5 separate regions of the Homo sapiens genome follow, and regions 1, 2, 3 and 5 are each linked to region 4. Evidence: fine-mapped expression QTL. A gene starts in region 4. Each other region holds a variant in brackets. All regions are shown on one strand. Distances are from middle to middle. Region 1 overlaps MVB12B (multivesicular body subunit 12B). Region 2 has its middle 100 kb from the start of NRON. Region 3 overlaps MVB12B (multivesicular body subunit 12B). Region 4 holds the start of MVB12B (multivesicular body subunit 12B). Region 5 overlaps MVB12B (multivesicular body subunit 12B).

What was found. PIP is the estimated chance that this variant, and not a neighbour inherited with it, causes the effect.
Region 1: its variant is the best candidate, but not a certain one, in a credible set for the expression of MVB12B in whole blood (GTEx, PIP 0.86).
Region 2: its variant is the best candidate, but not a certain one, in a credible set for the expression of MVB12B in whole blood (INTERVAL, PIP 0.63).
Region 3: its variant is the best candidate, but not a certain one, in a credible set for the expression of MVB12B in whole blood (TOPMed, PIP 0.86).
Region 5: its variant is the best candidate, but not a certain one, in a credible set for the expression of MVB12B in CD4 T cells (CEDAR, PIP 0.56).

Annotation. Positions count from the first base shown.
Region 1 is chr9:126,427,388-126,432,387 of GRCh38, forward strand. All of the region lies in intron 7 of MVB12B (multivesicular body subunit 12B), which reads left to right. Among named protein-coding and RNA genes, the nearest start is that of NRON, 19 kb to the left of the region's middle. The variant T/C (reference allele first, on the strand shown) is at 3,011.
Region 2 is chr9:126,509,249-126,514,438 of GRCh38, forward strand. No RefSeq gene overlaps it. Among named protein-coding and RNA genes, the nearest start is that of NRON, 100 kb to the left of the region's middle. RefSeq lists a silencer at 5,118-5,177. The variant A/G (reference allele first, on the strand shown) is at 2,564.
Region 3 is chr9:126,359,699-126,364,698 of GRCh38, forward strand. All of the region lies in intron 2 of MVB12B (multivesicular body subunit 12B), which reads left to right. Among named protein-coding and RNA genes, the nearest start is that of MVB12B, 35 kb to the left of the region's middle. The variant A/G (reference allele first, on the strand shown) is at 3,021.
Region 4 is chr9:126,324,173-126,329,364 of GRCh38, forward strand. It overlaps MVB12B (multivesicular body subunit 12B), which reads left to right and starts at 2,657. Exons shown (of 10, transcript NM_033446.3): 1 at 2,657-2,838. The coding sequence starts at 2,758. RefSeq lists a silencer at 2,642-2,781 and an enhancer at 3,223-3,874.
Region 5 is chr9:126,443,853-126,448,852 of GRCh38, forward strand. All of the region lies in intron 7 of MVB12B (multivesicular body subunit 12B), which reads left to right. Among named protein-coding and RNA genes, the nearest start is that of NRON, 36 kb to the left of the region's middle. The variant C/CA (reference allele first, on the strand shown) is at 2,659.

The sequences.
Region 1 (5,000 bases), 100 kb after region 4:
CTGCTGCTCACAGCTGCCCCAGAGGCTTCCTATAAGGAGAGGGGCCACCAAGGAGAGCACAGTGCGGCTTTTCTAACCTAGGAGGGTTTTTTGTCTTACGGCAGGTTTTGCTTAACAAACGGGACTGTGGGATGGGAAATGATACCATCCTATTCTTTTGTTGTGTTTGTTGTTGTAATCTGATTTCTATCTCCAAGTGCACAGTTTTTAACCATAGAAAGCTTATTTATCTCTTTTGAAAAAAAATTGACATAGTAAAATTAAGCAAATACCTATTAAAACTGGCATATAATAAGACCAAAAAATCTCGAACACCCTATGAATGCAGGGTGAGCCACAGTGCAGAAACTCTGCAAAGCCACACAGTGCAGTGAGCTGCGGGGCTAGGACTGCTTTCCTCTTTAGGACCTAGACAGGTTGGCTCACTGACATCTTCATTTATCCATCAGCATTAGGCTGACTATTAAAGTGAAGGGGGCACACAATTGTCCCAGGACAGAAGCTGTAACCTGAATCTATCCTGGCAGACTGGGGTGTATTGGCCACTCCTCTGCCTTCAGCTTTTTTTCTTTTTTTTTTTTTGCTTTTCTTTTTGATTGCTGGAAAAGCCAGCTTATTGCCCTCCACAGCTGTTTGCTTTTTAAAAACCAGCCCCCCTTTCAGGATGTTTGACACCAGGAAAGATGTCGGTGTGGTCAAGTCAGTGTCCATCATCTCATCAGTTTGGATCATGGCCCCTTGTACAGAGAGAAGGAGGATTTTATCTGTAACTCAGAACCGTGGGTGAGCCATGTAGCTCTGACATTGGAGTAGGAAAGCACAAAGCAATTAAAAATAATTAATGATTTCTGAATATCAGCCTTCTCCATGCAGTTTTAATCTAGTCCTCATTTAAATTGGAAGATGGACATTTAATTATCAGTATTATGAAATTCATGATTTATATATTTCATCCAATTGGATAAAATTTCTGCCACCAGCTTTTCATCTTATGATGAAAAAAATGTGTATCTTACAATGTGATCATTTAAAAACTCATCTACAGCATACCAAACAATTCCAAACATATTTTCCTTTCATTTGCAGTGATTACATGATTTCTGTCTCTTAATTAGGAAAAAAAAAACTCACCCGGGAAATTGAAAATAAACTTAATACTTTAATGATCAGGAAGCACTGCAGGGTTGGGAAAATGAAGGGTAAAAGACTCAAACAATGGGGTGCTTGAGAAGCGCTGTTCTCTCCTGTGTCAGGTGTGCTAACACAACTGCTTGGCATGTTGTAATGTTCATGGTTTGATGCCACAGAATTTGCATCCACATTCTGGGTGTGCCATGTGCCTGTGGTTCTCCTTTTCCCTGTGCTCGGGTGAGTGTGTGGGCTGAGTGAGTGTGTTCCTGATAACCACCAAGGAGGGAAAGAGCCACTGTCTTCTGGTGCAAGCCCCTGAGTAGTGTTAGCCTCTGCTTTCACAGGGGTCCCTGTGGCCCTTGTCTTCAGTGGATATGTTCTCGTGGCTCGGGGTGGCATTGCATTTCTGACCCTGGCTTCCCTGAGGTTCTTCGCTCCACAGAGGATTTTCGTAATCACCGACAACTGGCTCAAGCGGTGGTGGGTGAGCGTATGGGAGGGTTGCCCCAGATCTGAGACAGGAACATCAATTTGGCACAGCCACTGATAATAGCATATGGGAAAATTCCTGAATGAAGTGAAAAGATATGTATAATAATTGTGCTTGAACCAAGGAGGAAAGAAGTCATTTTAAAGACAGATACATTTTTATCATCACCTATAAGAACCATTTTTATCATCCCCTATAAGAACCCTTGTCTATCCATCTCCTCTTGCCCTGACTGACAACAAAATCAAGTATAAAGAAAAATAGAATAAGAAAAAGAAGAAATGAATGGGAGCGGATGGGGAATTGATCGCATGGTGTATTTGTATATCCTGATGTAAAAGGTGCGGCTGACAGGTGGCCAGGTTTGCTCCGTACACAACCATGTGTGTGCTGTCAGGCGCACGCACACTGCCTTGTTTCGATTGATGAATTGCCTGCTTTCTTGATTAAACCTTCCGTCACTTAAGAAACAAAAAGCCTGTGTTTAGATGGCAGAGTGGGACATGTCAAAAAAATCTGTCTCCTTTACCTTTGTGCAGATGTTGGGCACAGACTGTAACATGTATTATTAAAATGAATGTGGCATTTACTGTGCATTATTCCTTTCCTGGGAGAAAGGACTGTAAATTATATGCTAATAATAAGCTTTAACCCTTTCGAAATGCAAAAGATTTAAGAGTGCAAATATTCATGTAGGCCTGGCTAATTGGATGTGCTTTTCTACATCCACCACGGTGGCTGTGTCACTGAAGTTAATGAACAGCGTGTGCAGGCAGACACACAGGGCACTTGGGGAACTCCTGCCTCCTGGAGGTTTTCTGCAGTGCGAGTGCCTCCTCCTGGACTTCACAGAGAGATAGACCCTGAGAACCCTGAGCTGGGCTCTGGGTCATCTTACTCCAGATGAAGTCCATGGTCAGGATCAGTTCCCCAGCAGGTCCTCTGCAGCTGAGTGTTAAGCGTGGGACCTCTCTTCGCACACCTGCATTCTCACTTAGAATGCAGGGCCCACAGAAGGCCGTGGGCCCGGGCCTTCTGGGCTGCAGTCTGGCAGGTATCAGGCTTTGGTGCCCAGCCCTTACTTGACTCTCTTCCTTGACCAGGCTTTTCTAGCCTCAGCCCAGTTGCCCAGGTAGCTGACTCATCTCTCCAAAGACCTCCTTGGTCCCCTTGCTCCTCAGATCACACCTTTGTGCCCCTCCACAGCCTGACTGCATTCATTCAGACCTCAGACCTCACCTGCCTGGTGTTGGGGCTGTCAACAACCAGCCCCACCCGTGTCCCACCAGCCTGGGTCGCTCCCTGCGTCCTCCTTGCCTTTGTCTTGCGCTATGCTTGCCCCGCCACTCCAGCAGCTCAGATTTCACCACCTTCTCTTCTCTCTGTCCC[T/C]GGCTGTGGCTCTGAAGGCCACTCCCAAGCTGCCTCTCCATCAGGCTTTTCTGATTCCTCTCCCGCTGCTGATGCTCTCTCCTGGTTTACCCCACACTACTCTGTTGGAGAGTTTTCACCTGTGAGCACCTTGAGTGAGAGGGCAGAGACCATATTTAGAGAGAATGGAGGCTCCCCTCTTTTTTTTTTTTTAATTGAGGAGGATGTAGGTAAACAAAGGCAAAGACAAGAGCAAGATTGTTCACTCCATTCACTCAACAGTCACCGAGAGCTGCCCTGTCCTGTGCTCCTGAGGGCAAGCCTGCTGCCCTGATAGGGCATTTGGGGTTGGAAGCATAGGGTCAGAATCTTGGCTCTGACACATACTGGCCATCATACAGTGCTGCTGTGAGCAGTTGCCAAGGTTGTGCACTGCACAAAATATGTGACTAGCATCCTCTAGAACTGTACAAGGACCCTGCACAATGCTACTTTGGGCAATGCTAGTATCCATACCTTTAAAACAATGCAGTAATGCCCGTTTCCTTCCTGGATTGTTGTGAAGATCTAGGGTAGGTAAGAACATTTCATAAACCAGGAAGCAGTGTAGGAATGTCACTTCTCTCCTTATTCAGCTCCCCTACAGGGATGTGATCCAAGAAAGAGCCCAAAGACTTGTTGAGAATTATCACATGGGACACGCTGGCTTGGGCCCAGCACGGTCTTCATCTTCTTAGCCGTGTGCTTCCTTATATAATTTTGATATATAAGATTACTTCTCAGAGTGCTCAGAGGAAATTTCTTCCTCAGTCCAGAGAAACTTGCAATAAAAGGCTCTCTGGCATGGCTCAGCTCAGTACCCCCTGGAAGCCGAGACATTCTGTCACGCATCACCACTTAGAAGTGGGCTATTTTCCGTGGCAAGCAGCCCACGATCCCTTTCTCAAGAAGGTGACAGAATGATGGCTTGGGGGCAGGAAGGAGAGAAGTGCTTGGCAGCGTGAGGCTGCAACTTCTATAAAATCTTTCAATGTACCTTTGGTTTTTTGGAGGAAAAGTGCCTGGGGGGCTGATTTCTGCTCTAGGCTTTCATTTCTGCTTTTCCTGTGCCCCATGGGTAGGAAGAAGTTAAGACTTTTTCCAGTTAAGTCATCATGAAAAATAAAAATATTACTAGGTGACAGATACCTCAGTGCTCTTAAACAGGCGGCCACCTTCCCACTGTGCTTTCCTTCTCTTTTTGGTTTTTAAGCATGGCAGAGCTTAGGCGGCACTGGTTTAATGGGCCACATCCCCTTCTTAACTTGGAAAAGGGTTAAATCTGTGGTCCAGGCAGCCGAGGGCAGCTGGATGAAGCAGGGTGGGAGCCCAAACAGCTGGGTGCAGGCCCTGTCTCTCCCACCGACTAGCCGAGTGAGGCCAGCAGAGATCCTAGCCTTTCTGGATCTAAATTCCACATCTCTCCATATCAGCAATTGCAGTAACAATATCGATCATTTGAACATAGCAATAGGTCGGCTCATTCTTATGGGACGCTTCCTGTGCACCAGGCATTGTCTGGTGTTTAAGGTGGAGGTGGTAATGCCCACCTCCCAGGACTTAAAGCTATGTGGGAAGGAGGCTTGTATATTCTGCAGCTTGAGATGCCCCAGGCCTCGCAGTGGCCAGCAAATGTGCATTTACTGCCCCTGGACTTCACAGACATTCTGTCCAAACACTGCCTTGACTGTAACGTTCCTAAACACATGAACACAGAAAAACCAACTTTCTGATACCTTTCTCCCTGTATGTTTATCTTCTTTGTCTAGTTTTTCAGCAGAAATATGCCCATTTCCCCCTGATAATTCCCTTCCTTAGAGACAGCATAATTGTAGACCTGGCCAGAGAAATGCTGAAAACAAAGGGAACCCCCTTGAGCCCAGCCCTTCACCTGCTCTTAGCACTTCTTCAGAGGTTTACTCTGGAGTGAATGAAGTAGTGTGACCAGACACTCCTGCCTAGAGGCAGCTTA
Region 2 (5,190 bases), 190 kb after region 4:
TGTCGCTGCATTGCAGCCACCTGTACCTCTCATTAGATTATGTGCTCCTGGAAGAAGGGGTCCATGTCTCTTTTTTTTTTTTTTTTTTTTTTTTTTTTTTTGAGGTAGAGTCTCACTCTGTCGCCTAGGCTAGAGTGCAGTGGCGCAATCTCGGCTCACTGCAACATCCGCCTCCCGGGTTCAAGCGATTCTTCTTCTGCCTCAGCCTCCCAAGTAGCTGGGACTACAGACACCCACCACCACACCTGGCTAATTTTTGTATTTTTAGTAGAGATGGGGTTTCACCATATTGGCCAGGCTGACCTCAAACTCCTGACCTGGTGATCCACCTGCCTCAGCCTCCCAAAGTGCTGGGATTACAGGCGTGAGCCACCACGTCCAGCCCCATGTCTCATTTATTATGCCCTCCCCCACCATTGTATACCCAGAGTGCCCAGCACAGGCCTGGAAAAATGGTGGACATCAGCAAATGCTCTCTGAATGAATTCCTTACACTGGATGAAGTAGACAGATGAACTAGACTCAATTGCTGAGGAGCCCCAGAAGGACAGACACCAGCAATACAGGGCCTGTGATGCCCAGCGGCAGGCCTCCCTGGACACACCCCGATGCTGGCCCCAGAGAGATCAGACAAGGATATGAAAGCTGAGCCTTGTCTGGTTCATCTCCGAAGCTGCAGGACCCAACACGGGGCCTGGCTGCAAGCTGGCATCAGTCCATGGTGATGATGGTGGGACAGGAAGGTGAACTGCCACCGGCTGCTGTGTCTCTTTCTAGAACCCAGCTCTGGGGGATGTCAGAGAAAGGGAGGAGGTAGATGGGTCACAAGACCCAACACTAAAATGGCCAGGGGCTTGGATCTCAGGGACTGGAGAACTTCAGAGATAAGTTGATTCCAAATAGATATGGATAATGCACATAAAAAAAAATTAGGAGCATGGCTTGCTTCATGAACATGGGCATCAGAAGCCTCAATAAAGTCTTTTTTTTTTTTTTTTTTTGAGATGGAGTTTATCTCTTGTTGCCTAGGCTGGAGTGCATTGGCGTGATCTCGGCTCACTGCATGCAACCTCCGCCTCCTGGGTTTAAGCAATTCTGCAGCCTCAGCCTCCTGAGTAGCTAGGATTTCAGGTGCCTGCCACCTCATCTAGCTAATTTTGTATTTTTAGTAGAGATTTACCATGTTGGCCAGGCTGTTCTCGAACTCCTGACCTCACGTGATCCACCCGCCTTGGCCTCCCAAAGTGCTGGGATTACAAGCATGAGCCACTGTGCCTGGCCAAGAAGCCTCAATAAAGTCTTGAGCAGAGTGAAAGGTGGTTGGGTGCCTAGACGACAGATGGCAGAGGTCAGTTTTCTGGCTATGCCCATTCATCCCTTCCACGTTGCCCTAGGTGGGTCATTTTCATCCATTTGCAGGTTGGGGAGGGGTGTCAGCAGAGGGCAGCACAGGCGGGCAGCTGCCTGGCCCTGAGCCCCCTCCTCCCCTCGCCCCACACCTTGGGTCATGTTGCTGCAGAGACACAGGTCTTGGGAATGGTGGTGCGGGGGCAGAGGTCTGGGAAGGCCCTGAGGGCTGGACTCCTGATGGGGAGGGCACATGGGCAGAGGTTGGCACAGTTTGGAACACCCAAGACACATCCATCCCCAGCTCCTCATCCTTCTCTGGAGCGGGCACAGGGTTCTCAACTTCAGCTGCACATTAGAACCTTCTGAGAGTGGGTTAGAATTCCTGTGCCCAGACCCACACCCAGACCAATCAAACAAGAATCTCTCTCTGCAGGAGGGACCAAGGAGTCAGTAGTGTTCAAGCTTCCCAGGTGATTTCAATGTGCAGCTGAGAGTAAGAACTCAATTCTGGCCGGACTCGGTGGCTCACGCCTGTGATCCCAGCACTTTGGGAAGCTGAGGCGGGTGGATCACGAGGTCAGGAGTTCAAGACCAGCCTGGCCAAGATGGTGAAACCCCATCTCTACTAAAAATACAAAAATTAGCCGGGCACAGTGGCAGGTGCCTGTAATCCCAGCTACTCGGGAGGCTGAGGCAGGAGAATTGCTTGAACCCAGGAAGCAGAGGTTGCAGTGAGCCGAGATTGCACCACTGTACTCTAGCCTGGGCAACAGAGCAAGACTCCATCTCAAAAAAAAAAAAAAAAAAAAAAAAAACAACAACAACTCAATTCTGAGCTTTCACCACTTCCCCAGTTACATGTTACCAGCCAGTGGAGCTGAGTCCCAGGGAACTATGAATTCCCAGGGGCAGGTGGAAGAACAGACATCAGAAGAGCTCATCCACCCAGGGAAGACAAAAAGCTGAGCAACCCACACCAGCAGAAGCAGAAGTCATAGACCAGCCAGAGCATGAGTTAAATATAAACAAAAGGCATCCTCCAAGAGATGTGGGAGGACCCTGGGAACATTGGGCAGGGAGAAGTTGTTTGGAATAAGAGCCTGTCAGTTTTGAAATACTGACAGACCTAGAGAGACAAAAACAGATAAGCCAGTAATTGCACTTGAAGATTTTAACACACCTCTCTCAGAAACTGTAGTCAAATTGCCAAAAT[A/G]TGAGCAAAGATATAAAATGTTTGAATAACCTGATTAACAAGCAGAGAACTTTCAACCTGGCATAGATCCCATATCCTTTCAGAATCAACTAAGAACTAAGCCACTAAACAAACCTCAATAATTTCCAAAGAGCCAACGTCATATCTAAAACCATCTCTGATCATACAATGAAAAAATAAGAAATGTAAAGCAAAATGATAGCTTTTTAAAACCACACATGATTGGAAAATGCACTACAATTAAATAAGAGGAAGCCATAAGGGAAATTATTAACATCTTAGAGGAAAATAATAATGAAATCACTACATATCAAAATTTGTGGGAGGCCAAGCATGGTGGTTCACATGTACTGTAATCCCAGTACTCCAGGAGGCCAAGGCAGGAGGATCAGTTGAGGCCAGGAGTTTGAGACCAGCCTGGGCAACATAGTGAGATCCTGTCTCTACAAAAAAATTCAAAAAAAAAAAAAATAGCCAGGCATGGTGGTGTGCTCCTGTAGTACCAGCTACTTGGAAGGCTGAGGCAGGAGGACTGCTTAAGCCCAGGAGTTTTAGGTTACAGTGAGCTATGATTGCACCACTGCACTCCACTCTCCTGGATGACAGAAACCCCATCTCTAAAAAATAAAAATAAAAAAATTGTGGGACACGATTGAAACGGTAGACAATGAAATTTACAGTTTAAATTTATCCAAAAGCAAGAAAGATTGAACATAAACAAGCTACGCTTTTAACTGAAGAAGATAGGAAAAGAGCAACAAGTAAGTGCAAAGAAATAGGAAATAATGATAAAAAGAATCGATGAAATCAAGCAAACAGAAATTATGAACAAAGTCAAAATTTGGTTCTTTGAAAAGACTAAAAGAGACAAACTTCAGACAAGGAGAAAGAAGAGGCAAATAAGAATTAAAACAAAAGATAACTGCAGATATAACAGTTAACAGGAATATTATTAGTAACCATGTATTAATTACCATATATCTGGAAAAATATAAAATGTCAAAATTGGTATAAGAAAACTAAATACCCTGGCACAGTGGCTCACACCTGTAATCCCGACACTTTGGGAGGCTGAGGTGGGTGGATCACCTGAGGTTGGGAGTTCGAGACCAGCTTGACCAACATGGAGAAACCCCGTCTCTACTAAAAATACAAAATTAGCTGGGCGTGGTGGCCATGCCTGTAATCCCCGCTACTCGGGAGGCTAAGGCAGGAGAATCGCTTGAACCTGGGAGGCAGAGGTTGTGGTAAGCCAAGATCGCGACATTGCACTCCAGCCTGGGCAACAAGAGCGAAACTCCGTCTCAAAAAAAAAAAAAAAAAAAAAAAAAAACATAGTCCAATTTTCAACCTTTTCCTCTATGATCGTTCTTTCTGTGTCTCGTTTAAAAATCTTTGCCTATCCTCCCAAACCCTTTAAAAAAAATGTTTGGCTTTTTTTCCTGCCAGTACCTTCCCTGGAAGATGAGTGAGGAAGGGTTTCTGGAGGAGGCAAGGTATGCCCTGAGCTCTAGAGGGGGCTGGACTAGGATGTGTTTCCCAGGGAAGGTAAGCAAATGTCAAGGGGGGAGGTATTTCATTGTTCACTGGGCATCAGCAAACGTTTACAGAGGACAGCAGGGGTAGCCTTCTGTGTGTCATCACCACAGTCCTGAAGTTAGGGATGGCCCATTTAGCAGATAAGGAAACTGAGGCTCCAGAGAGTGCTCAGAAGCACACAGTCAGACAGGGGCACCTCAGGGCCTCCAGCCCAGGCATGTCCAACTCCAGTGCCGCTCCTGGCGCGGCCTGGATTATGCACACCTGGAAGGAGGTGTCCTGTCCTGTGGGGTTAAGGTGAGGATGGCTCATGAGGTGAGACAGGCCCAGTTCAGGGCCCAGCTTAGTCACCTCCCTTGATGTGCCCCTGGGGCTCTGGGATAACAGCAGCCAGCAGCAACCAGGGCTTTCTGGAGGAGGAATTGAGCAAACCCATTACATACTTGGCCTGGGGCAAGGCACACGGCAGGGGTGGGGGATGCAGCAGAGGGCGTTTGGCCACGGGGAAGCCCCACCAGGCCCCTCCACGGGCAGGAAGGGAGACTGAGGGTCTGAGGTCGTGTGAGCTTCCTCCCCCTACCTGTCCCCTGGCCTTGTGCAGAGACTCAGGAGCACGCTAGCAATCTGCTTCCAGGCTAAGCACCAGCCCCAGTTAGCTCAAGAGAGCTTCCCGCTGAGGAAGAGGGATGATGTCGGGCCAGGTCTCCAGCACCCCACCTCACTGACTGGGGGGCGCTCCCTAGGGTGGGTCCTGGCAGGGGCCAAGACCACCTCACCTCCCGCAGGCCCAGGAAGAGGCACTTCGCAGCGAGGCAAAGCCCCTTGGAGTTCCATTGCCCAGCGAGAGGGCCCCAGGAGGTCTCTGGCCTGCTTTCTCCCCTGGAACCCAAGGGTTCTGGCACCTCCCTTTCTAGGTTGCCCAGCAGGGTGGACCTCCAGAGCCGCCTGCACGAGGCCCCTCCCACCGTGCCGCCCGCCCGGGACCCCGCCCTGCGCTCCGCCCCCAAACACGGGTTCTCACGCGGTCCGGCCGCGCGGGGGCGCCCGGCTCCCCGGCCCTCGCTGGGCCCTGCGGGAACGCCCCGGCC
Region 3 (5,000 bases), 35 kb after region 4:
TTATCCTTTTAATGCTTCTAAGATCTGGAGAATGTACTCTCTTTTATTCCCAATAATGGTAATTGGTGTCATCTCTCTTTTTTTCTTGCTCAGGCTGCCATCCTGGATCAAATAGTAGTTCTTTTTTTAGTTCTTTCCATTTTATTTTTGGTTATAGTCTTAGTTTTATCAATTTAATCAATCTTCTCAAAGAACCAGCTTTTGGTTTTATTGACTTTTTCTATTCTTGTTTTTAACTTTATTGTGTTCACTTTTTAAAATTTTTTCTTCTGCTTACTTTGGGTTAAATGTTCTATTGTTTAAGGTGGAAGTTTTGGTCATTGATTTGAGACCTTTCTTCTTTTCTAACATAAGCATTTAATGCTATGAATTTCCCTCCAAACTCTGAATTAGCTGCATCCCTCAAATTTTGTTGTGTTGTATATAATTTTAATTCCATTCACAATGCTATCTAATTTCTCTTCTGACATCTTTTTTGACCCATAAATTATTTAGATGTGTGGTTTTTTGTTTCCATGTATTTGGGGACTTCTAGATATGTTTCTGTTACTAAGAATATATTCCGTGTGGTCAGAGAACATAGTTTTATGGCTTACAATATGAGTCAGCAAACTTTTCTGTAGAGGGCCAGATAATGTATATTTTAAGCTTTGTGAGCTATATGATCTCCATTGTATATTATTATGTTTTCAACTCTTGAAAAAATATAAAACTATCTGTAATTTATAATCTGTACACAAACAGGCTACAGGCTGGATTTGGCCTGCAAGCTGTGATTCATTGACTTCAGCCTAGAGTGTGATCCGTCCTAGTGAATGTTCCACATACACTTGAAAAGAATGTATATTCTTCTTCTGTTGCAGTTGAGTGTCCTACAGATGTCAATTAGGTCAAGTTGGTTGATAGTATTGTTCAAGTTTTCTATATTATTCCTGATTTTCTGTCAATTTGTTCTATCAATTATTAAGAGAAGGGTATTAAAATCTCTGACTATAATTGTGGATGAGTCTATTTTTTCTCAGTGCTATAAGTTTTTGTTTCCTGTATTTTGGTGTTCAGCCATTAGTTGCATAAACATTAAGGAATGATATGTCCTCGTGATTAATTGACCCCTTCATCATTATTAAGTGACCCTCTTTATCCCTGTTAATATTCCTTTCTCTGAAATCTACTTTGTCATATATTAGTATAGCCACTACAGCTTTCTTTTGATTTGTGTTGGCATGAAATATTCTTTTCCATCCTTTTGCTTTGAACCTATCTGTGTCTTTATATTTGAAGTGGGTTTCTTGTAGACACCGTATTATCTAGTCTGACAATTTCTTCCATTTAATTGTGGTGTTTAGCCATTTACATTTAACATGATTATTGATGTGGTTGGGTTTAAATGTACCAATCTTGCTTTTTGTTTAATTAATTTTTTCCCATCTGTTGTTTTTTCCCCTTTTCCTATTTTTCCAACATTTTTTATTAATTATTTTTATCTCATTTTATTTCCTCTGTTGGCTTACCAGTTCTATTTCTTTTTGTTGTTGTTGTTTCTCAGTAGTTGCTTTTGAGTCTATACCATGTATCTTTAGCTTATCACAGTCTACTTTTAAGTAATACACAACTTCATGTGTAGTGTAAGAACAGGATGTTTATTGTTCCTCTTCTAGCCCTTGTGCTATTGTTGGCATACATTTTTTTTCTACGTATGTCATAAACTCCACAATACATTGTTATCATTTTTGCTTTAAAGTTTTATTATCTTATAAAAGACTTAAAAATAATAACATAGTCTTTTATAGTTATCCCTATGGTACTATTTCTAGTGCTCTTCATTGTTTTGTGTAGATCTGCATTTGTGTAGATCTGCATCTGATATAATTTTCCTTCAGCCTGAGGAACTTTTTTGAACATTTCTCATAGTGTTGGTTTGTTGGTGATATATTCTCTCAGCTTTTGTTTGTCTGAACAAAGTCTTTATTTTGTCTTTGTATTTGAAGGATGTTTTCCTTGGGTATAGAAATCTAAGTTGGCATTTTCTTTCAGTACTTTAAAGATGTTGCTACAAATACAAAAAATTAGCTGGGTGTGATGGTGCACACCTGTAATCCCAGCAGCTCAGGAGGTTCAGGTGGGAGAATCACCCGAGCCCGGGAAGTCAAGGCTGCAGTGAGCTGTGATTGCGTTACTGCACTCCAGCCTGAGCAACAGAGTGAAACTCTGGAAAAAAAAAAAAAAAAAAAAAGATGTTGCTCCATTATCTTATGGCTTGCATTGTTTCTTATAAGAAGTCTGCTGTCATTCTTACATTTGTTTCTCTGTACATAGAGGGTTTCAGGCTGTCTTTAAGATTTTCTCTTTATCACTGGTTTTAAGCATTTTGATTATGATATACCTTGGTGTAGTTTTCTTAATGTTTATTCTGCTCAAGGCTCATTGATCTTCTTGAATTTGTGGGTTTACAGTTTTCATCAAATTTGTAATATTTCTGTTTATTATTAAAGTATTTCTTGTTCAGTTCTCCCTTTCTGGGACTCCAGTGACATGTATATTGAACCACTAGATATTGTCCCACAGCTTAAATAGCTAGAAAAACACATGGAAGGAAATAACAAAGATATAATCAGAAATTAAAAGTAAGAGAAAAGGAGGGAGAGATGTTAATTAAGAATTGAGTCTTTGTAAAAAGCATAATAGATAAACTTCTGGCAAATCTAATAGTAAAATAAAATAATATAAAGATAAGGAAAATTTATTTGGGAAAAGGAAAGTAAGAATATAGGAAATTTCAAAATTATAAAAGAAGATGATGTGTAGCTCTTATGTACTGCCATGTGTGACTGAAATTGAAAATCCTGATGAGTTAGATAATTTCTACTGCTATCTAAGAACAAATCCTAAAAAGCCTGTATCCAAGGAAGAAATTGGAAATGTTGTTAGAGAATTATTTACAACAAAAGCACTAGGCCCAAATTGCTTTAAAGTAACATTCTCTCAAATTACCAAGGAACAGTTAATTTTTACATCGTACA[A/G]ACTATCCTAAAGCTTTGAAAAAAGATTGGACGCTTCTTCATTTGTTTTACAGAGCTAATTTACCAAGGTCAGTTTTACAATTGACCTTGCTAATGTAAATGGTACTGTTTCCCCCACCTCATTTTATTTTTTAAAATGGTTATTGGTGTGGTTTACATGTTTTGCATAAAGGAAAATTAATTTTTGGCCAGGCGTGGTGGCTCACACTTGTAATCCCAGCACTTTGGGAAGCCGAGGCGGGGGTATCACCTGAGGTCAGGAGTTCGAGACCAGCCTGGTCAACATGGTGAAACCCCGTCTCTACTAAAAATACAAACATTAGCTGGGTGTAGTGGCGGGCGCCTGTAATCCCAGCTACTCAGGAGGCTGAGGCAGGAGAGTTGCTTTAACCTGGGAGGTGGAGGTTGCAGTGAGCCGAGATTACACCATTGCACTCTAGCCTGGGTGACAGAGTGAGACTCCGTCTCAAAAAAAAAAAGAAAATTAAAGTTTTAAAAATAGATTTCTCTTACATTCAACAACCTCATTGAATTCTTGTTTCTAATTCCCTCCCTTGCTTCCTGGCTGTTCCATGACCCTTTAGATTATGGTTTAGGATGACAAATTTATGAGGTATGTATATGATGGGAAATTATGTGATTACAAACTACCGTGTGTGTAGGGAGTGGCAGGTGATTGGAGAAGAATGTAAGAAGTGATCGACCTGTGGACTAAGCAAATACACGTTGACTCCGTTCTCCACGCTCCTTTCTTAAGGCCTATTGGATTGTCTTCTAATGCATTTCCCTAACTCCATTCTAACCTTCTCCAGTCTTCCCTGAACTGTTGCCAGTGGAAACTTTCCAAAAGATGAGGTTACTCACCTGCTTAGAATTGTCCTCTGGCTCTCTGTTTTTAGACTTACAGGCAAATTCGTTGTTTTACTTACCACCAAGCGCTGAGCACCTAGCACTCAGTAAGTGTTTATGTAATGAATGGACTTCACTGGCATCTGAGAGTTGTTTAGATTTGCTCCTTCCCTAATTTTCATGTTCTCATTCTGCCCCCACTCACAGTTCCTCAGAGGTGCTGTGCCCATCCTTGCCTCTGTGCTTTTGTGCATGCCCACCATTCCTCTCCCTGTGGAATTATGTTCTGGTTCTGTGTGTTTCAATGGCACCCTTTTCCTCCATTGCAGTGCTTACCACTCTTTAATTACAGTTTAATTACAGTTACCACTCTTTAATTACTTCTCTGTGTACTGAGCCCCATGAGGAGGAGGCCACAGAGCTATGCCTTTCGCATAGCTGTACCCCCAGTACCCAGCACAGGGCCTGGTGCACACATTCTCCACCAGCACACACAGGATGTTTATTGAATTGAATTAGCTGGCTCCTTTCTGTTTGGCCTTCTTGTGTCTGGGATATTGGATGCCAACATCCAGCTAAGTTATGTTTGTGTTAAACATGAATTGAAATGCAATTACAGCTGGCAATGTGCTTTGAGAGCTGAGTAATAGAGTACATAAGAAGAGTGACTTAGGCACGAGGACCAGTTTATCTCCTTTCCTTTCTTGCCTCCTGTCATCGGGCATGACTCATGAACGGCGCGAGTTCAACTTGTCTTCTCTTAAATCCCATCACTTCAACTCTTCCTGCCCTCCTTGTCTTGATGGGTCTCTTTCAGGGCCCCTTTGTTAAAACCAGCAAGAAGCCCAGAGCCAGGCCTTGCAGTCTGAGTTGGTTGGAGCCAGAGGAGGCTGCACTCCCCACTCCAGGGCAGAGGTGGGGCCAGCACCATGGGTAGGAGTGTGCACGGGGCTGCTGAAATGCTGGCTGGATCACTAGTTTTCACTACTAATCACATCCTGCTAGTGCCCTAGCTAAGGCAAACATGGTGTCTTTTATCAAAGATGTTGCCACTTTACCTTAGACCCATTGCTTTCATAGCCTTCTCGAATTGCATTCAGGAATTGTGTCTTAGGTTTGGACCCACCTTGA
Region 4 (5,192 bases):
GTAGCTTTTGCTCTGTAGCTAAGTGGGCTTGCTATATTTCTCCCTGAATTGAGTAGATTTATTTGTGTAGTGGCGGGTGGTGCAGGAGAATAGTATCACTCTGTCCCTGAAACAGGTTCACTTAACCCACAGTGAGAGCGCATGGAAATATTTGCTCTCTGCAGTCAGCCAAATCCAAAAAGAGAACTCAGAAGCATCTATTCTTGTCCACTTTTTCCAAACTCACTCATCTTCCCTTAGAGTGGAGAGAGGCCAGAAGTCTTATTCTAATGGAAGTCCCTCTATATGGAAAAGAAGGCTTCTCCCTTCAATACCATAAGACAGGGTAAGGAAGAAAAAAAAGAATAATAATAATAATAATAATAATAATAATAAGAAGAAGAAGAAGAAGAAGAAGAAGGAAGGAGAAGGCTTCTCCCTTAACATTTAGGAAAACCATTGATTTTGGTGTTTATCTTATAACTGACCACCTTACCAAAGTCTCTATGATTTTTAGTTGATTTTTTTTATTTTTACTTTTTGGGAAACACTTAAATCATAAGCAAATAATGACAATTTTATCTCTTCCCTTCTAATATTTATATTTCTTATTTATTTTTCTTATCTTATTGCATTGGCTTTATTCTATAGCCATTATAGCAGGCATCCTTTTGACTGACTTACATGAGAATACCTTTAGTGTTTCACCATTAAATATGTTTGTTGATGGCTTCTGATAAACTTTGTCATGTTAAAAGTTTAAACTTTCTTCCTATAATAGTTTACTAAGAGTTTTTAGAAATTTATGGGTCATTAGTTTTGAAGTTTATAAAATACTTTTAAAGCATCTATCCCATTGATAATATCCTGTAATTTGTTTTCCTTTAACAATGCAATGCATTTACAAATTCCCTAATGTTGGATTTTTCTTGCGCCTCTGGAATAAATCTTGCTTGATCATGGTGGGTTTTCAGTTGCTTTAATAGTAAACTGGATTCAAATGGCTAAAATTGTATTTAATAGTTTTACGACTATTATATACTTAAATATATAGTGCAGATTCACATATTGAGGATTTATCAGTGAGCTTTAGAAGGTGGTCCTGGCTCAGATGAGTTTGGGAAATGCCAGGTTAAACAAACCAAACAGGTTTCTTTACTCCTGGACTTCACAGAGGCCTTCCTTAATATACGAATACTTATCGTGATTCTCCAAAAGGTACACTATAAACGGCATGCAGCACTTTCTCAAGTTGCCCACAGAAGCCCATTTTCAAAAAATAAATATTAAATTCTCTGGGGACTCGTGTTCTAGGTTAGTCATCTGCAGTTCTTTTTGGTATTGTCTGTTGGATTTTGGTATCAGGGTTATGCTAAACTTGGGAAATGAAATAAAAATTTTTGTTTCTTTTGTTTATTTTTTCCTGTGTAACAGTTTAAGTAACATAGGGATGATCTGTGCCCTGATGGGAGGATAAGGCTTGCTGTAAAGCCATCTGAACCCATGGCATTTCTGAGTAGTGAAGACACTGGGAATGCACACGTGCATGGCTTCCCTACAGGATGTTTCCCCCGACAGCCCATTCTGCTTGGCACCCTTCTCTTTAGGATCAAACAGCTATTATGGAAAAGCCTAGAATGTGTGAAAATGAGACTCAATGCATTAGCAAATCAATGCTGATCACTCCTGCATGGTCCTCAAGTCCTAACGAATGCTCCAGCCTCCTGGCAGGAAACCTTTCAAATCTTGCACACGCTGGCCTCTGCCTGGGGTGCCTGGCTGGGCGGTGTGGGGGGCATGGTTGGTTAAGGCGCAGAGTCCGCCTTTCCTACCAGCCACTCTAGCTGAGGGTCAAGCTCTGGACCCTCCCCCAACCATCCAGCTCCATTTTATCCTTGGCTTATGCCTTCCCCAAGTACTGCAGGGTAGGACTCCTGCTAAAAACTTCTTCTAGATGCTTGCCTGAGGCTGGCCCCATAAACCTGATTCTAGGCTTCTGGGGATAAATCATCTAACTAATATAAGAGAATTGCTAGGCAATTGGGGTTAGTTTGAGACGACTGGCTGAGCTCACCTTAGGTGAGCTGGGGGGTGGGGGAAGATGAGCTGAAGGATTCTAGGGTTCAGTGAAGCCTAGAATGGCTGGGTGGGCGGAGAGTCCTTAGAAGGGTCCAACTTCTAGCCTGAGGGCCTGGGGGCTTCCAGGGATCTGCAGCCGAGCGGAAGACCGGTCTTGCGTACAGCGAGGCCTACGAGAGCTAAGTGGGCTGAGGGTCCCTGGAAAAGACCAGCCTGGGGGCGGGGACCATCGATGCCCCAGGCTCTAGAGGCCGTGGGCTCCCGGGGGCCTGAGGCTGGACTGGGGTCGCCGGCGGGCTCGGGGAGGCCCGGGTGGGCGCACCGGGGCCCTGCCTGCGGCTGACGGGCTGGGTCGAGGGGGAGGCTGGGGAGGCGGGGTGCCGGCCGGGGCGGCGGCGCGGGCTCGGGACGCCAGGGCTCCCTCTCCCTCCTCCCGCCCGAGCCAGCCTCGGGCGCCGGGCGCCTCCCCCGATCCTGAACCAGCGCCAGCGCCGGGAGGCCCGGAGCCCGGCCCGCCGCCGCGGCCCGCGGAGGGAGCCGCCGCCGCCACTGCCGTTGTCGCCGCCGCCGCCAGGCCGCGCCCCGCCCCTCCGCCGCCGCCGCCGCCGCCGCCGCTCTCGGTGAGGCTCGCGCTCGAGCTGCGGCGCCGGCTCCTGCCGCCTGGGCCCCGGGCCCGGCCCCTCCCGCGCCGCCCGGGCGATGAGAAGCTGCTTCTGCGTGAGACGGAGCCGGGACCCGCCGCCGCCGCAGCCACCGCCGCCGCCGCCCCAGCGGGGAACAGTTAAGTGAGGCCCGGGCGCCGCGGAGGCTCGGCGGAGCCGGCCCTGCAGCCGGGAGGGCGGGCGGGCGGGCGCGGGCCCCCGGCCGAGGGGCGGGCGGACGGGAGGAGCCGGGCCGCGCCGAGGCCTGCGGGCTCCGTGCCCGGCCCGCGGCGGGGACAGGCCCGGGCGGCCTTTGCAGAGCCCCGAGCGCGCCGCGGCTGCCGGTGCCCGGGCTCGGCCTGGCGGCGAGAGGCGGGAGAAGCTGGGGGACCCGAGTGCCAGCAGCGCCCCCAAGGCCCGGGCAGGTGAGGGGCGCCGAGAGCCACCTCTGCCCGCGTGAGAGGGAGGCGGCCCACCTGGGCACAGACTGGGAACAGTCAATCGTTTGACCGGCCTGGCCTGGGGTCCTGCTCTCTCTGGTCACGTGGGTGCAGACCAACGTGCACCTGCCCCAGGAGCATCACTGCCTCTGTGACCTGGGCACAGCAGAGAGGACACCTAAACCCTCAGGCACCTGTCTGGAAGGTGACATGCCCAGCCTGGGTACCCGAGACCCAGAGCACCCATCCAGGAACATGGTGGGCACGTCGAGCACCCTACAGTGACTCCAACACCAGCGAGACGGGAGGAGCAGGGGCTGGGACAAGAGCTGAGGCATGGCACCAGGGGACATCACATCCTCAGAGGCAGGCACCAGGGAACGGGGTAGACCCAAGAGCATCTTTTGTCCTCTTTGTTACCAACACACAACTGTTCTAAATCAGCAGCCCTTCTCACCATGAAAGATGAGACTCTTCTGTTCCCTGCCCCTCAACACCTCTTGCACAAGGCACTGAGGAAGACCACAGGAGGGCAAAAGGCAAATGGTGGTTGCCCCTTCCCTGCTTCCTGCCCCCACCCAAGAACCAGAGCCCACTCCGATTGCTGCCACAAAAGCAGACAGCAGACCAGCTCCTCTTAGGGGCCTTTGTCTCTCGTGGTTCCTTCTCAGTATAATCTCATTGTACATTTCTCGACAGCTGGCTGGATCTCATCTCGTTTTAACAGGGCTGGGAAATCTTATCAGCGGCACCAGGAAAGCTTAGAGAGTTAAAAAATAAGCTCTGTGAAGCCTTGACTAACTGAAAAACTCAATGTGCTAGGATGTTTAGTTACAGTAGATGGTGACACCTTTCTTGCTTGTTAGAAATCATGTGGGGTCCTTGGAGATACTGTACCATGCTCAGAATCTTTAAATAGGGCCTCAGAGAGATGAGGCTTCTGCTTGGGACCCGGGCTCCAAGCCCCATGGGAAGCAGTTGACGTGGCGATTACTGGTTCATTTAAACCTAAACTTACCTTCTGTAATCCATATTTTTCATTCCTTCCTTCTAGGCTTTAGGTCACACTCCTAATTTAGGTTCAAGGCATTTTTCTTGCCCTGTCTCCATCCTGCTAGGGACCTTTTACCACTTCCAACTGGAATGTTGTGCCATGGTTATGTGCAGGGAGTTTAGAATTAGCCCTCAGCTTAAGTCTTGGCTTTCCTACTTACTTTGTGCCCTTGGACAAATTATTGAACTTTTCTGAGTTTCAGTTTCCTCATCTGTAGAGTGAAACTAATGATAGTATTCATCTCATGGGATTATGGCGTGATGTAAATGAAATTTTGCAAGAAAAGTCTAGCTCAGTGCCTGCTACATGGCAAGAAGTCAGTAAACGGTAGGGGTCATTATGAGAGGTTTGTTAACGGATGAATGAGAGGAGTAGCTTATTTATTTATTTTTAGAGTTTCTTTCTGTCTGCTTTTTTTTTGGTTTTTGTTTGTTTTTGAGACAGGGTCTCACTGTCACTCAGGCTGGAGTGCAGTGGTACCATCATGGCTCACTGCAGCCTTGAACTCCTGGACTCAAGCGATTCTCCCACCTCAGCCTCCCAAGTATAGGTGCCTGCCACCACGCTCGGCTGTTTTTTTAAATTATTATTATTTTTAGTAGAGTTGGGGTCTTGCTATGTTGCCCAAGCTGGTCTTGAACACCAGAGCTTAAGTAATCCTCCCACCTTGGCCTCCCAAATTCCTGGGATTACAGGCATGAGCCACCACGCCTGGCCTATTATTTAGTCTTCAACGGGACAACCAGGAAGTGATGGTATAGTAGAAAGAACACTGGACTTGGATTTAGGAGCTTGAGTTTGACTCTCAGGCTACCTCCTGGACCCCAGGTGACCCTAGGGGAGTCACAGAACCTTTCTGAATCCCCATTTCTGTAATGTAAAAGTGTCTTAAGAACAAAGCCTACCCCATAAAGCTAATCAGTCAAGAAGAGCTGAAGGAGCTAATGTATGTGACTGCACTTGGCACTGCAGGAGGTGGCGGTCCTCATGAAATTTAAG
Region 5 (5,000 bases), 120 kb after region 4:
TCACTTGCCTCCATTTCCGGCCCTTCCCTCCCCATCGCCAGTCCCTGGCAGTCACTTGCCTGCCCAGTGCTATCATATACATGGACTCATACAATATGTAGCTTTGTGTGTCTCTCAGCATAATATTTTTGAGAGTCTTCCATGTTATTGCATGTATCAGGAATTTGTTCCTTTCCAACACTCCAGGTGTCTATTCTGCTTTGAGACCTGTTCATGTACCTCGTTCCTTGTCATTAGGTCAGGTGGTCGTCAGGCTGGGATTAATGGTTGTATCATCCTCCCTCTTATGGATACAATGTACTTTACCTAGCCAGTCCTCAGTGGCTGAGTTTTTACATTATCTTCATTTCTAAAAGTTATACTTCGGTGAATGTTCCTTTAAATAAATATATAAACACATTTTTAATTATTTTGACATATAATGACAAATTGTCCCCCGTAATGGTTGAATTTGTTTACACTTCTGCATGTATGAAAGAGGTTTGTTTGGTTTGGTTTTCCACACAAGACTTGCTAACTGGTAATTTTTTTTTTTTAATTTTTATCAATTGGAAGGTGAAGGGGTATTTTATTGTTAATTTACATTTCTTTGATTACTGCTAAGGTTGCCTGTGTTGAGCCACTTGTGTTACTCGAGACCTTTGCCTGTCTGTCCGCAGCATCTCTTCCATTGCAGTCTTAATTTTGTTTGTGGAGTTGCAGGAGCTCCTCTTGCAACAAGGCCTTCTTTTGCTCTCACATTACTACCGCTTGTTTCCAGTTTCTGCTTTGTACTTTCATTTCATGTTTCCTTTATGTTTTGTGTCTTTGCCATCACGTTTTAGAAAAGCCTTCTCGGTTTTCTGGTATATTCTAGTACCTTCATTTTTTTTAACATTTAAATCTAAAGTTCTGCTGTGATTTGTTTTGATGTGTGACAAGATAAGAATCTATGTTTTTCCAAATTATTTATTATTGTCCCAGCATCACTTGTTAAATAATCTTCTTTTAACCAACTCATTTGGAAAACAATCCTATAATAACCTCTTACTGTGATGTATTTTGTGGCCTGTGTTGTGTTCCATTGAGTTGAATGCATATTCCAATGGGAGGGTCACGCTTTTAATAATTATAAATGTATGTATTTTAATTTCTTATCTTACTATTCTTTGTAGTTATTTTTCAGAATGTTCCAGGTAATAATAACTTTTTTACCCAGTAGAAATTTAGAATCACTTTAAGTTCCAAGGAAAATACTTTGAGGATTTTGATTGAAAAAAACATTGAAGTTATAAGTCAATTTGGGGAGAGTGGTCATTTAGAAAAATATCCAATCTTTCCTTCCAGAGATATAACTCTCTATTCAAATGTCTTTGTATATTATTCAGTAACATATTATAGTTTTCTTTGCTTTCTGTTTATATAATTCCTAAGTTTTAAATTTTGTTGCATTACCCATTATGTTGGTTTTGGTTTTTGTTTTGTTTCTTTTTGAGACAGGGACTCACTCTGTCACCCAGGCTGGAGTACAGTGGTGCGATCTCGGCTCACTGCAACCTCCGCCTCCCGGGTTCAAGCAATTCTGCCTCAGCCTCCAAAGTAGCTGGAACTACAGGCACCCACCGCCACACCTGGCTAATTTTTGTATTTTTAGTAGAGACAGGGTTTCACCATGTTGGCCAGGCTGGTCTTGAACTCCTAGCCTCAAGTGATCCTCCCCCTCGGCCTCCCAACGTGCTGGGATTACAGGCGTGAGCCACCGCACCCAGCCTGCATTGCCCATTATGTTTTCATTGGTGATTAAATATTTAATTTAATATTGTTGGGTCTTTTTTTTTCTTTTTTAGAGATGGGGGTTCTCACTGTGTTGGCCAGGGTGGTCTCAAACTCCTGGCCTCAAACAGTCCTCCCACCTCAGCCTCTCAAAGTGCTGGGATTACAGGCTTCTGCCACTCCACCTGGCCCTGTTGTTTTTTTTAATCTTCATTTGGTAACTGGCCACCTCTCTGTATGCTTGTTATTTCCAATAGCCTCCAGTTTATTTACTGGGATTTTCTTGGAAGACAACATCATCTGCAAATACAGATCATTTTGTCTCTTTGATAACATTTATACACCATTGGTTTTTCTTGCTTTGTATTTTTGGCTAAAACATTGAAAGCAGTGGCAGTAGTTTTCATTCTTACCTGGTTCCTGACTTTAATGGGAATGCTTCTAGTGTCCCATGGTTAAGTCTGATATAGATTTGGGGGAATTTGGAGGAGAGAGGGCTTGATTGTATTAAAGGACCCATTCTCTATTCCTATTTTCCAAAGATTTTTTTTTTAATAAATTCAGGCACTAATTTGAGTTTCATATAAAAAAATTTGGAATATTTTAATGTAGTATAATATTTTTTCTCACTTATTGACAGATACAGATTATTTTGTTTTGATGATTTAGCATTTAGAAAGTTATTGTTATATTTCTGAAATCAATCTTTATTATGGTGCATTCTTCTTTAAATATAGTACTAGATTTGAGCCACTGCTATTTAAGTTAGGATTTGGGCATTTATATAAGTAAGATTAGGCTTTTTGCTTATCAAAATGTAATTTTTGTGTGATCTAAGTTTTTTTCAAATATAAAAATATTTCTAAAATATTTAAATGGCTGTTCATTTTGGGGAAAAAAGAACAC[C/CA]AAAAAAAAAAAAAAAAAATCCTGTCTGAACTATGTGGACCTGGAAGCTAGGGGCATTTTGAGGAGATGGACAACTATTTCAGTTTCTTTCAGCATTAGTGATTTTTTTCAGGCTTTCTACTTTTTCTTGAGCCAGTTTTATCATGTGTATTTTTTTAAAGAAAATATAGCAATTTCACCTAAATTTCATCTAAATTTTAAAGTTTATTGGTACAAAATTTTACTTAAGAGTTTGTATTTATCTTAAAATTAATATACCTATAGTCATATATATCCTGATGTTATTTTTCTCTCTCTTTTTCTTGGTTGATTTATTTGCTTTATTTGTCTTTCCAAATAACTGCTTTTTAAATTTATAAAGCCATTAGACTTTTGCTTTATACTATTTAATAAATTTTTATCTGTATTAGTTCTTTTTTTTAACTTTCTTTTTTTTTTTTTTTTTTTCCTTTGAGACAATGTCTCACTCTGTTGTCCAGGCTGGAGTGCAATGGTGCCATCTTGGCTCACTGCAACCGCCGCCTCCCAGGTTCAAGTGATTCTCCTGCCTCAACCTCCTGAGTAGCTAGGACTACAGGTGCGCACCACTATGCCTGGCTAATTTTTGTATTTTTAGTAGAGATGGGGTTTCACCATGTTGGCCAGGCTGGTCTCCAACTCCTGACCTCAGGTGACCCACCTGCCTCGGCCTCCCAAAGGGCTAGGATTACAGGCATGAACCACACTGCCCCCAGCCACCTTTTTTTTTTTTTTTAACTTTCTATTTATTTTAGCTTTTTTAATAGCTTCCCTTGAGTGGTTCCCTCATTTGTTTTCTGTCCTTTTTTGATTTTTAATAAAAGTGTTTAGGGTTATATAAATATTCTTGTATATTGCTTTGGTGGCATTCTGTAGCTTTCATATATAATATTTATTTATAAATACATAATTTCAGTTTTGATTATCCCTTTGACTCAAGTGTTAGAAAAGACATTTCTAAGTAATTTTTGAAACCTTAATTTCTACTTTTATTATGTAATTATCCGAGAATATGACCTCTATAATTTTTTGTTTTTTCAAGTGTATTTAGTCTTTGCAGTCTAATAGATATATCAGTTTTACTAAATGCTCCGTTGATACTTGAAAACACATCTTCTCTCTGTCACAGTGTTTGAGATACACTCCCACCATCAACGTTTTTTGATCAAGTAGGATGGATGGGTATGTATACCCCCATATAGATATATACATTCATTCATTCAATTTGACCAAACAATGGTAGCTTTTGTTTTGCACAGTTCTTCTCATGTCAGTATCATTTTGATCATTGGTTTTATTTTGTATGTTCCTATGCAGTGTTATTGAGGCCATGAAGGTTTATGACGGTTAAAGGTCTATTATGTATTTTACTCTTCATCGAAATAGAATTCCCCTTTTGTCGCATCTCGCATTTTTGGCCATAAGTTCCATGGTGCTCCTGTCCCTTGTGGCCCTGGCTCTGAGTGCTGCCCCTCCTCCTCCCTCTGCTCTGGCCAGGTGAGGCTTCTCCTCCAGGGGTTTTCCACCTTTGCTGTGGTTGTCTCTTCCACCAAAGAGAGCCCTCCTGTTCCCCACCACATCCCTGCCAGCCTCTGACCTGTCTGTGTCTCCAGCTCTTCCCAGAAGCCCTCCCTGGCAGCTCCTGTCCTCCTCTGCTGGATCCTGTGAGCACCACAGCCTCCTGTACACCCTGAGCTATGCCTCTCAAGGCCCTCCACCAGCTCATCCCCTGCTGTGGGCACAAGCCCTGCTTTCAGAGTTTCCCTGCCCAGGGAATGAATGCCCCTTGAGAGACCACACATATGCTGCAAGTCCAGCCCTGCTCAGAGCCGTTCTTTGCCAAATAATCACCTTGTTATTAAAGAGCTGATTGTTCTACTAGACTCTTCTATTCTTATGGTTCACCATGAAAGACCAGTTAATTCACTTTTTAAAAATTACTTCAAGAGCCTTGTGTTTGGCCGTTTTGTGTTTCTATAAAGAAATACCTGAGACTGGGTAATTCATAAAGAAAAGAGGTTTAATTGACTCACGGTTCTGCAGACTATATAGGAAGCTCCAGAATCTGCTCCTGGTGAGGGCCTCAGGAAGCTTCCAATCATGGTGGAAGGCAAAGGGGAAGCCGATGTATCACATGGCAAGAGCGGGAGCAAGAGAAAGAGAAGGGGGAGGTCCCAGGCCCTTTCAAACAACCAGATCTCGGTGAATTAATGGGGCAAGAACTCACTTATTACCAAGGGGATGGTGCTGAACCATTCATGAGGGATCTGCCCCCTGATCCAGTCACCTCCCACCAGGCTCCCCGCCTCCAACATTGGGAATCA